Linked DNA regions of Homo sapiens. The protein of the gene in region 1 interacts with the protein of each later gene in a biochemical or structural test. Each region holds a gene or a part of one and is shown on either strand. Other genes may lie near its edges.

Region 1 (5,243 bases):
TACAGTATTCATATAGATTCTCATATTCTTTTAAGAATCTTTCACACAGTGTAACTGTCATGCATTAGATATATGAAAGATTCTGTGTTGAAGGGTTAATTCAAGTTCATACGCTGTTTCCTGGAATGGTGTCACAAAATGGATCTCACTTGGCATATAAACTGCCAAGTCCTTATACATATAAAAGAAATGGCAAACTGCCAGATATTGAGTACTTATATTCTGACATTGGTAGCCTTTTATAAAGAATCAGTAGTGTTAGATTCTGGAAACCATCCTGTGAGAAATGAAACAGCCTCAGTTTCCTTATAAGTAAAATGGGGATTCTTATAGTGTTACCATACAGGGTTGCTATGTACCTAGCACATAGTGGGCACTTACATGAATGTTAACTGTTACCCTTTTCCTTACCTTAAAGGATAGACATGGTTTGTGTGCATGATAGTGAAACTGGGGCAAATGGCTCCTGGCAGTAGGGGTGAGCAGAGGAGGAACTTCCTTCTTGCTTACTTTTTTATAAGATAGATCATACCTTGCTCATTTGTTTGTATATTTTTTACTTTGCTATATTTTTTTAAATTTTTAATTTGTTTATCTTAAAAGATTGTTTTTTAATTAAATATAGACAGAGTCTTGCTGTGTTGCCCAGGCTGGTCTCAAACTCCTGGCCTCAAGTGATCCTCCTGCCTTGGTCTCCCAAAGTGCTGGGATTATAGGTGTGAGCAACCTTGCCCAGCTTATTATTTTTATTTTTTTATTTTTTGAGATGCAGTTGCTGTGTTGCCCAGGCTGGTCTCGAACTCCTAAGCTCAAGGATTCTTCCACCTCAGCCTCCCAAGTAGCTGGCATTATAGGCACATACCACCATTGCCTGGAGCTTTTCCATATTTTAAATGTCTTCTTTTGCTTTTTATCATGAGGTTAGTCTGGAAGCATTCTGGGGCTGTAAGTTAGCCCTGAAAATCTGCCCTGTTGGTTTAATATACAAGGCTTTTAAGTTTCATTGGGCAGATAGAAGATAAGAAAGATGAATAAAATACTAATTTTTTCTTTAGTTCATAACACCCCCCCACCCTTTGCCTGTCATTGTAAGAGTCAACTCTGCTCTATAAATCCACCTTTGGACTTGAAAGAGTACGAAAATAGAAAGGAAACGCAGTGGGGTGGGTGCAAGTGGAAATGGGAGGTTGGTCCAGAGGTTCCATGAACCTCCTCAGAAGTGGTGGCATGCAATTGAAGCAGACAAATGAGGAACCAGAGTCCTTGTTCCCTCTTATTTCAGATACTTAGATCGTTAGTGTGTGTGTGTGTGTGTGTTAGTGTAGCTATTTGCATTAGAATTTTGACATACTGGAGTAACAACTACTTTTTCAATTTTCATTTCTTTTTTAAAATATGCAAGCTATATAAAGATAGCTGTTCACATTATTTTTAAATGCATGCAATACAAATAAACTACATTAAGTAAAGATTCATTGAAAAAAATTTTACAAATTTTTCTTCTTTGTAGACAGACTATAGCTCTAAGCCAAAGCAAAAGAGTGTATGAGCACAGTATCCAAAATGGTTTGGACTGTTAACTGTAATTTGATTGTTCTGTAGAGAACTCTCAAGTTTAAAGGTTGTTAATAGCTACTTTGGAGGGTCACATTTTTTTAAATAAATGGGAACTCGGAATTTAAAACTTCAAAAGCTAAAATAATTTTATATTTTATGCATCCTATGGTAATTTTATAACTTTAAAAATTAAAGATCAATTTGCTATCAACCAAAGTAGAATAAAATATAATTTGATGTGTTCATTTTATGTTTTTTTTATAAGTACAGTATCTATATTCACTAAAATTATTTTCACATATGTAATTTGTATGAAGTAGAAGGGTTATTGTCTAATGTGATGTTCTCTTTTAAATCTAGTTTTATTGTCCATATGTTCTCTACTTTGTGATCCTAATCCAGATGACCCCTTAGTACCAGATATTGCACAAATCTATAAATCAGACAAAGAAAAGTAAGTGTTTACTTATTTTAGTTTCTGTATGGATACATTCCTATATAGTATGCCAAAACACGAATATTATCAATATGTTTTAAGTCAATTTGATTATGGTTGTTATATGTATATTGTTTATCTTTTTCCAATGGAGTAAACCTTTCTTTGAGAACTCTGTTAGACCTTTTATGATAAATCTTGTTCCTTCCCACTTACTGTTCAATAGTATATACTCTGTATTTGAAAAATAGATGTATATATTCTAGGTGATAAATTAAAAATGAAAGAATTTAATCATTGGAAAGTATTAAATATATATTGCTTATCTTCTCCAAGGAAGAGGAGTTCTCTCGTACCCATCCAAACTGACCTAATTCTCAAGCTGCTTCATCTTGCTAGTACTGTAGGTTCATTTGCAATTTGTAGATAATGCTCCTTCAGGATTGGCTTTTGTAAATTTCTGTTAGAAGCTGGTTTCTGCATTTTGATTTTTGTGTATTTGGATACATTTTCATATAGGTTGCAGAGAAATCCATGAGTTAAAAAATTATTTTTCCTGTTTTATTTCTGCATGAACCTAAGTCACATTGACCCAGTAATTGATATATGTGTGATTATTGCAATTAAGTATAAGAAGGTAGAATATATAGTTTTATTAGACAGATGCTTCTGAAATATTAATTTTGTATGTTTTTACTATATCCTTTTTGTGTATCTACAGATACAACAGACATGCAAGAGAATGGACTCAGAAATATGCAATGTAAAAATCAAAAACATTTTCATATATACCAGAGTACTGTAAAATCTAGGTTTTTTTCAACATTAGCAGTAAATTGAGCACTGTTTACTGTTTCATTGTACCATGAAACCATTTGATTTTTACCCATTTTAAATGTGTTTCTGAAGCAAGACAAAACAAACTTCCAAAAATACCCTTAAGACTGTGATGAGAGCATTTATCATTTTGTATGCATTGAGAAAGACATTTATTATGGTTTTTAAGATACTTGGACATCTGCATCTTCAGCTTACAAGATCTACAATGCAGCTGAAAAGCAACCAAATTATTTTTTGCTGAAACTAGATGTTTTTACATGAGAAATACTGTATGTGTTGTCTAAGATGTCAGTTTTATAAATCTGTATTCAGATTTCATTCTTTGTTAGCTCACTTTATAATTTGTATTTTTTTACTGTATAGACTAAATATATTCTATTTACATGTATGTCAACTCATTACTTTTTTCCTGTGAACAGTATTGAAAAACCCCAACGGCTGATAATTAAGTGAATTAACTGTGTCTCCCTTGTCTTAGGATATTCTGTAGATTGATTGCAGATTTCTTAAATCTGAAATGATCTTTACACTGTAATTCTCAGCATACTGATTATGGAGAAACACTTGTTTTGATTTTGTTATACTTGACTTAACTTTATTGCAATGTGAATTAATTGCACTGCTAAGTAGGAAGATGTGTAACTTTTATTTGTTGCTATTCACATTTGAATTTTTTCCTGTATAGGCAATATTATATTGACACCTTTTACAGATCTTACTGTAGCTTTTTCCATATAAATAAAATGCTTTTTCTACTATTTGTCTTGATTACTTAAAAAAATAAAAATATAAGTAAGGATCAAAACTCTAAAATTTTGCATGAAAATTACATCCAAATTGTGAAAATCAGATCTATTTTGTTTGCCATTAGTCACCATTAGTTATATAAATTTTATTGTTTTAGGTTAGTATCTCTTTACTAAATTGTCAGTCTATAAGATAATATATGTTGATCCCTTGCTGTAGAGGAGAATTTAGAGTAATTTGGGGTTTGTCTTGGATTATATCTAAATGGATTATTTGTTAAAAGTACTGAAATGAGTATAAGGCAGTATCACCCATCCAAAAGAAAGGTCTTTATAGACCTGCACAGTCACTAGATTAATTCATTAAAATGCCCCCACCCTGATGTAATTGACATTACATTTCTTAACATTTTAAAATCTAGAATTTCTAAAATGGAATTTAATGCCATCACAATTTGAAAAACTTTTTTTTTTTTTTTACTATAGAAGTTACAAAGGAAGTTCTAAAATTATGCCTCCCTCTGTTTTTATAAGTTGCCATCGAAAAGTGATTTAAATAAGCAGGTTATCTTTATAGATTTTAAAGAAAACTAGAAAGTTTTAATGTTTTAACTTGGGGAAAAATACATCTCTTTAATGTTTAGCATGCTTGTCAACCTTGAGTGAGTGTCATTTTTAAGAACAGTTGTAGCCCTTCTGATTATTGCAGTAGCTGTAGAAGTATGTAAGAATATGTGATGGGTGTAGTCATTAGCAAAGCATTTAAATCACTTGAGTATTTTGTCATGGTTCATTATTATTAAAGCACAAAATAACCTATTGTTAGAAAATATGTGTTTTTATAAATGAATGTAAAATAATTAAATGAATTGTGAAATGGATGTTTAAGAAAATATAGGCTTAAAAAGTAAATCTATAAAATGATGTCTTAAAACAGCCATATCATGAAAAATTCTACTTAGCTATATTATTATAAGCTACATTTGCCCTGAATTTGAACACTCAACATCACTAGATTTAAATATTTAGTATATTTTGATAGTAAAGGGTTTTGTTTCTTGAATATCTTCACTTTAAACAAAAAAAAAAAACAACTTTCATTTGTGTGGCATTTATTTTTGGAAGTGTCTTCTTTTTTTTCTTTATTAAAGTTTTTGAAACTTGCCTAACTTGTTTGCCTTTGCTTACATCTGGATTGTACTGGACTTGAGGAGTAAGCAGAAGTTCTCATAATTAGCTAAAAACCTTGAGTTCCATAGTGGCGTCATGATCGGTCAGAACACCATTTTGGGTATATTATTTTTGCTTAACTCTAACAAGGAGAACATCAGTTACCTTTTAAAACTGTAGAATAAAAGTCAGGGCCTTTTGTGGATTAAGCATTAATTTAAGGACTTCCTTGGAGTGAGAGAAATAGGTAGTCTTTTGGGGATTTAGGATCCCACTTCTTGAAGTTGCATAGTTGAAAACCATGTTCAAATTGGATTCTGAACGCTTATAACTGCCATATACAGCAGTTACCCACATCAGTGACATGGGTTGTAAGGGGCAGCCTCACCACCATCCTCCAACTATCTCAAAAGCGTACAATTCCTGAAGTACAAGCTTTACATATATGCCTCCGTCAACCTTATTTATTAATTTTTGCATTATTTCCCTGTTTC
Region 2 (7,046 bases), on another chromosome or scaffold:
CTGTAAAATGGGTTGGTGAAACTTCCCCAGAGTTGTGAGGCTTAAAGTATGTAAAACGCCTAACACGTAGGCACTCAATAAGTATTACCTTAGAAATCTTCCTATCCAGTTTTTCTGAATGGTCTGGAAGCACCTTGTATGTAGTGGACTACAGCATGTTATCCTTTATGTTGTTTATTTCTTTTCTCATTAGCTATGAACTTTTTAAGGCCAGGAATTCCTAGTGTTTACCAGAGAATGTGTTACTAGATGTCTTAGTCTGTTCTGGCTGCTATTACAAAACACCACAGACAGCATGGCTTATAAACAACAGAAGTTTATTTCTCACGGTTCTGGGGGCTGAGAAGTCCAAGATCAAGGTACCAACAAATTTGACATCTTAGTGAGGGCCCTCTTCCCTTGTTCATAGATAGCTAGCTGTCTTTTCACCATTACCTCATGTAGTAGAAGAGTAGACGGGGCTCTATAGGGCCTCTTTTATAGAGGCATTAATTCCATTAATGATGGCAAAGCTTCCCAAAGGCCCCACCTCTTAATACTATCACCTTGGAGGTTAGGCTTTCAACATGAATTTTGGGGGACACATTCAGACCACAGCACTAGAGCAGGCATGAATTGGTTATTGGTAAATCAGTAAATGATCAACTAACATTTATTAGGTTCCTCCTGTGGCTTCTATGAGCTGAGCTAAGTACAGGACCCACAAAGACAAGAAAGATGTCTGTCTTTTTTGAATGCTTATAGTTGAGTGACTTTCTCACATTTGTGTGTGTGTGTGTGTGTGTGTGTGTGTAAAACCCTATCACATAATGGAACTTCATTTTCCCATGCCCTTCCAATCTAAGAGCAGTTCTATGGACTCAATACCTCCTACCCACCAGCTGCTACTGTAAAGATTTACTTTTTTACTCCTTTTAAAAAGTTCAACCCTCTGGCACATGCATTACTTCATTCCTTGGTCCCAGCCCACCACCCCAGTATCTGGCACGTAGTGTATTAGTATTTGTGTGTGTGTGTGTGTGTGTGTGTGTGTGTGTGTGTGTGTGTGTGTGTGTATGTATATAGAATTTAAAATTTTTACTCCGGCAGTTGTCTTCAAATACTCTAATTTTGGGGGGCATGATTATCATTCTGTCTTCTGGCAGTACATGGATAGATGCTACCTGAGTAGGATTGTCTATGAGGTCAGCTGCTCCAGTCATTTTATACAAGAGGAAATTGGAGTGCAAAGCTTTAAAATGATTTTCTTAAAGTCACCCAGGTGTCAGAACCAGAACCAGAGTCCATGTCTCTAGTTCAGGACTCTGCACACATTGGCACATGTTCTGTCCTACCTTTTGGGATGAATAGTTATACTTGCTTTGTGATTACTCACCCACCTTTTTGGAGACATATGAGTGTTTTGTACACTATTAATAGAAGGCAGCCTTCACAAAATGCCATCTGCAGATCTGTTATTTCTTCTAATAAAGGAAATGATGTAAAATTACCTTAAATAGAAATAGTGTTAATTCTTCTGGAGACATATTCCATAATCCAAACACGAAATGTTTGAAATACTTGAAGATGCCATATAAATAAGTCCTTTGTAAAAAGATAATATTAAAAATTTTTGTTTTATAGAGATGGGGGTCTCACTGTGTTGCCCAGGCTGGTCTTGAACTCCTCAGCTTTTACTTTAGCTTCCCAGTGTGTTGGGATTACAGGCATGAGCCACAATACCTGGCCAAGTCCTTTTTTTTAATCAAATGACTTATTAATACACAGTTTCTTTGCCAGCTTTTGTTTTCATTTGCTATCAAAAATGTTGCTTAGTAGTGCTTTGATCTGAGTTATCAATAACAGGTAAATGCCATTATGGATAATAATTCAAAAAGAAGCTTATTAATTATTAGGCCTATCTGAGAGTGAAGTAAAGTTAGCATTTTCTTTTTGTTTATTTTACTTATTGTTTATTTGTTTAGAGACAGGGTCTCGCTGTGTTGCCCAAGTTGGAGTGCAGTGGTGCTGTCATAACTCATTGCAGTCTCAGGCTGGAGTGATCCTCCCATCTCACCCTCCTGAGTAGGTGGGATTAGCATATGCCACCATGCCTGGCTAATTTTTTTATTTTTTAATTTTTTTGTGGAGATGGGGTCTTGCCGTGTTCAGGTTGGTTTCAAACTCCTGGTCTCAAGCGGCTTGGCCTCCCAAGGTGCTAGGATTACAGGTGTGAGCTACCATGCCCAGCTGAGCATTTTTAAAAAATACTGGTCTTTGTACATGAGTCGTTACTATTTGATTCTAAGCCTTATGACTGATATCCCTAAAAATTATTTATAAAATTTTAAGTGCATCAGAGTCATTGAAATGGAATGAGCACTGTCTTTTGGTCTTGAGGTTGTTTTAACTAGCTTCGTAATGGTCATGAGCAGGTTATTTAGCTTTTGAAGCCTTCGTTCCTTCTTTTGTCAAATGAAAGTGATAGTTGCTTTGTTTTAAAAGAGTATGCTTTTCAAACGTGATCATTCTTGAAAATGTAGATTAAGAGCTTTTTAGAGGCCAAGTGCCATGGCTCACGCCTGTCATCCCAGCACTTTGGGAAGCCGAGGCGGGCGGATCACGAGATCAGGAGATCGAGACCATCCTGGCCAACACGGTGAAACCTCATCTCTACTAAAATACAAAAAAAAAATTAGCCGGACGTGGTGGCGCATGCCTGTAGTCCCAACTACTCAGGAGGCTGAGGCAGGGGAAACGCTTGAACACGGGAGGCGGAGGTTGCAGTGAGCCAAGATCATGCTACTGCCTGGCGACAGAGTGAGACTGCCTCTCAAAGAAAAAAAAAAAAACTTTTTAGAAACGTTGTTTTGGGGAATTTTTAGTGTGTGAATTCATTTTAAATATGTGAACTCCATTTGACATGGACAATGGATCTTAATAGTTTGTGATACATTATTCAGTGTATTAATCAAAAGTCAAATCTCTTTTGTAATTTGCTGTACCAGACCTGTTGTGTTAATCTGATCAATGGCAAGTGAATCATAAGATTGACCTGAAAGGAAAAGATATTTTTAGGGGACATAGAATCATATTGGATAAGATTATTCCTATAGTTCATTTTCAGGAAATCTGAACAGGAATCTCGTGTAAGGAATCACATGTGAATTATAGAAGAGAGTCTGATGTAAGACTTTATTTATTAAGGTCTGCATCTGTGTTTCAAGTAAGAGCATAGAGGTAGTATATGAGCCCTGAACACTCATACAAGTAGGATAAAATTTTTCTTAAAACTGTTGGCTGGACAGTGTAGAGTCTAATGCTGTGACTCTTAACAGTTTTGTGTGTTCCAGAAGTTCATCTCCTCAGGATCAATTGAGGTTAGTCTAGCACAGACTTTAGTTATAGAAACCAAACATGAGAAAAATTTTTTGACCCATGTCTTCGTAGCATGCAGGCTTGGTAGCTCTTTCCTAGTTCTGGATGTGTGCCCGTTGTATATACTTTCAGCAATTCAGGATGTTCCTTTTCATATTTAAGACAAGCACTCTTGCATACAAATTACATAGCTGTGGGCTGAATGAAGATGCTACCATTGCTGTACTTCTACACAGGTTCTTTTCATGTAATGAAATCAGAAGGGATGGCTTTTCCATTTCAAGCTTCTGTTAATAAGTAGTCTTAGAATTGCCTTTGTGTACTGTAGCCAACACCCCAACTCATATATTTTTATAATCTTTGTGATGCAGAATAAATTCTGAAACTTTCCACCTCCTAATTAAATATAGAAATACTGAAAACAATAAAGCACCATGTATTCACTATGGACATATGTCACATTTTGTCACTTTCTTGCACTCTTGTAATCCCTCTCTAAAGCTCATGTTAAACTCATGTTCTTTATTTTCTTCTCAGATGATTCCTTTGGCACTGCATGTAACAGTACAGGAATTTCTTCCTTTCGTACTTCCAACAAATACTTTTTTGTCTCTTAACAGATGTGAACCATAATGCTGTTCTTTAGAAAGCAAAGGATGAAGTGCACAGCAGTGTTTTCTATATAAAGCTAATGGGTCATAAGGGGAAATATGGGTTATTTCCAGCTTGTTAATTGTCTTAATACATTTTTCCTAAGAATTCTATTGTGCCTCTGTGGTTATATGCACCAATATTGATAATCTTACAGCGTGCCATAAATAAGGATTTTTATATTATCTTTGCTAAATATTTTAAGTTTTTGTTTTGGGAATTGAAAAAATCTTTTGTGCATCTATGGTATGTGATACGTATACTAATGGATAAATCCTGTTTCACACAAAGATTAATTGGGTAACATTTTTCTTTCCTAGTTTTCTGAAGTCAGTGGTCATGTTGTGTGTTGGTGATTGAAAATATGCTGTTTAGGCTGGGCGCCTTGGCTCACTCCTGTAATCCCAGCACTTTGGGAGGCCGAGGCACACGGATCACCTGAGGTCAGGAGTTCGAGACCAGCCTGGCCAACATGGTGAAACCCTGTCTCTACTAAAAATACAAAAATTAGCTAGGCGTGGTGGCACACGTCTGTAATCCCAGTTACTTGGGAGGCTGAGGCACGAGAATCGCTTGAACCTGGGAGGCAGAGGTTGCAGTGAGCTGAGATCACACCATTGCACTCCAGCCTGGGCAAGCAAGATTTCATCTCAAAAAAGAAAAGAAAAGAAAAGAAAATATGCTGTTTAAGATCATTCAAATTCAGTTTCTAAGAAGTGTAAAGTTTTCCTAATTACTTAAGCTGCTTCATTCTCATTCCCTTTTGTAACACATTTTGCCATCTCTGTAACATGTTGAACATGTTTAAAGAACAGAGTGGGAGAATAGGAAGTTACGTGGATAAAGTTTGGTAATCAAGGTAGGAATACATCCTGCTTCACAGAATGGGAATATTTCTGAAAAGTTGACTGTAGTATTGAAGAACACTTAAGTGTAGTGTATTAGACGAACTGAGCTAATTTTGGTCTTTTATACACATAAATCAAGATTTCTGCATTTCAAATCATGCATATTTCTTTAAATTTATTGCTCAGTGTACTGTATTTCAAATATTGTAAAAATGAAAAGATCTTGTGGTCTTATTTAACTCAGTATGGGATAAGTCCTTCCCACCTTCCCATTCTTATTCCCTCTTTTAGGCTGAATGAAAGGCTGGGGGAGTGAATTTAAAAATAGATGGATCTCAGCTGGAGAATGGGTTGGTCACGTATCTCAACTGATATTAAATAATTTCTTAAATCCTGGATTGAAGATTATAAGAAAACAGTAAATGTTTGCTCTCAGTTCATTTCTTTGTTTTGTTTTTTCATGTACAGTTTTAGGCACTTGTAACTGCTGGATGCATGAACTACTTTCTAGTTCTTTCAGGCCTACTTTTAGATATCTGCTGTGGGGACAGTCCTCAACACTTAAAGTAATTTTAAATAGTGATAGGCAGAACTAGGGGTCAGTTTTACTGCCTATGCCTGTGCTGAATTTGACATGGCATTCCTAGGAGGGGAGGTGGAACGAGGGCGGTGCACACATTGTCCATATTGCTAGTCAGTGCCAGATTTTGAGAAACTGGGGCTAATCTCTCTCTTAAATGGTCAAGATCTAATTCCCCAAAGTGCTGTTTCAGATAACCTAGTATTTGTCCAAAATTGCCCTGCTACAATAGTATTTATCTTATATATATGTATTATATATATAATATATATATAATCTTATATATATGTATTATATATATTATATATATAATCTTATATATGTATTATATATATAATATATATATAATCTTATATATATGTATTATATATATAATATATATATAATCTTATATATATGTATTATATATATAATATATATATAATCTTATATATATGTATTATATATATAATATATATATAATCTTATATATATGTATTATATATATAATATATATATAATCTTATATATATGTATTATATATATATAATACATATAAATATATATATATATATATATATAGGTTTTTTTTTGTTTTTCCTCCTGAGATGTAGTCTCGCCCTGTTGCCCAGGCTGGTGTGCAATGGTGCAGTCTTAGCTCACTGCAGCCTCCGCCTCCTGGGTTCAAGTGATTCTCCTGCCTCAGCCTCCTGAGTAGCAGAGACTACAGGTGTGCACTACCACGCCCGGCTAATTTTTGTATTTTTAGTAGATACAGGGTTTCACCATGTTGGCCATGCTGGTTTCAAACTCCTAACCTCAGGTGATCTGCCTGCCTCAACCTCTGAAAGCACTGGGATTACAGGCATGAGCCACCACACCAATCCTATTACATTCTTAAAAAAATGTTTGTTTGTTTGTTTTTGTAGAGATGAAGTTTCACTATATTACCCAGCCTGGTCTTGACTCCTGGGCTCAAGTGATCCTCCTGCCTTGGCGTCCCAAAGTGCTGGGATTATAGACATGAGCCACTGCGTCCAGCCTGTATCATATTTTTATTCTGATATCTTTTGTAATTTTGTTTTTAGTGAAGTAGGGAGGTTTATATTAGATAATCTTCCAAGGTAATTATCAGCTTGGACATTATATGCTAATATGTCTTTTGTTTGTTTTTAAAATAAGTGTATATGTTTTAATTGTAAAATTTTTAAAACATCCAGAAAATGACATAGCAAGTGCCTATTTATCCACCACCTGGAAATATAAATTATGTCCATTTTTATCCCTTGGGGGAAAGGATGCAGTTATATAATCACTTTTAACAACCCCAACTGTTCAAGTCCTGTTACCCGTCTCTACACAAAGTAACAACTGTCTTGAGATTCTTAAGTAAATTTCACATCCTTGTTTTATACTTTTACTATACATGTGTACATGTATCTGTAAGTGATATGTGGTGTTGGTTTTTGTATTAAATTTTTACAGACATGTATAACGCTGTCTTTCAATAGCTTGATTTTTTTAAACTCAGTATCAAGTTTTTGAGGTGTATATGTTGATGCGTGTACATGTAGTTTATTCAGTTTCACTGCTGTATGGCACTTCATTTTATGCATAGATAAAATGTATGT

Evidence for each region. The genes of interacting proteins can lie anywhere in the genome.
Region 2: the proteins of UBE2D1 (region 1) and UBE3A form a complex in vitro, tested with the Homo sapiens proteins (12 studies listed by BioGRID, with this or other methods).

What each region holds. Positions count from the first base shown.
Region 1 is NC_000010.11:58,366,006-58,371,248, forward strand, and holds the end of UBE2D1 (ubiquitin-conjugating enzyme E2 D1), read left to right. Parts: intron 1-1,917; coding exon 1,918-2,011; intron 2,012-2,714; coding exon 2,715-2,760; 3' UTR 2,761-4,743; downstream 4,744-5,243.
Region 2 is NC_000015.10:25,428,979-25,436,024, reverse strand, and holds part of UBE3A (ubiquitin-protein ligase E3A), read left to right. Parts: intron 1-7,046. UniProt on the Homo sapiens protein: E3 ubiquitin-protein ligase which accepts ubiquitin from an E2 ubiquitin-conjugating enzyme in the form of a thioester and transfers it to its substrates.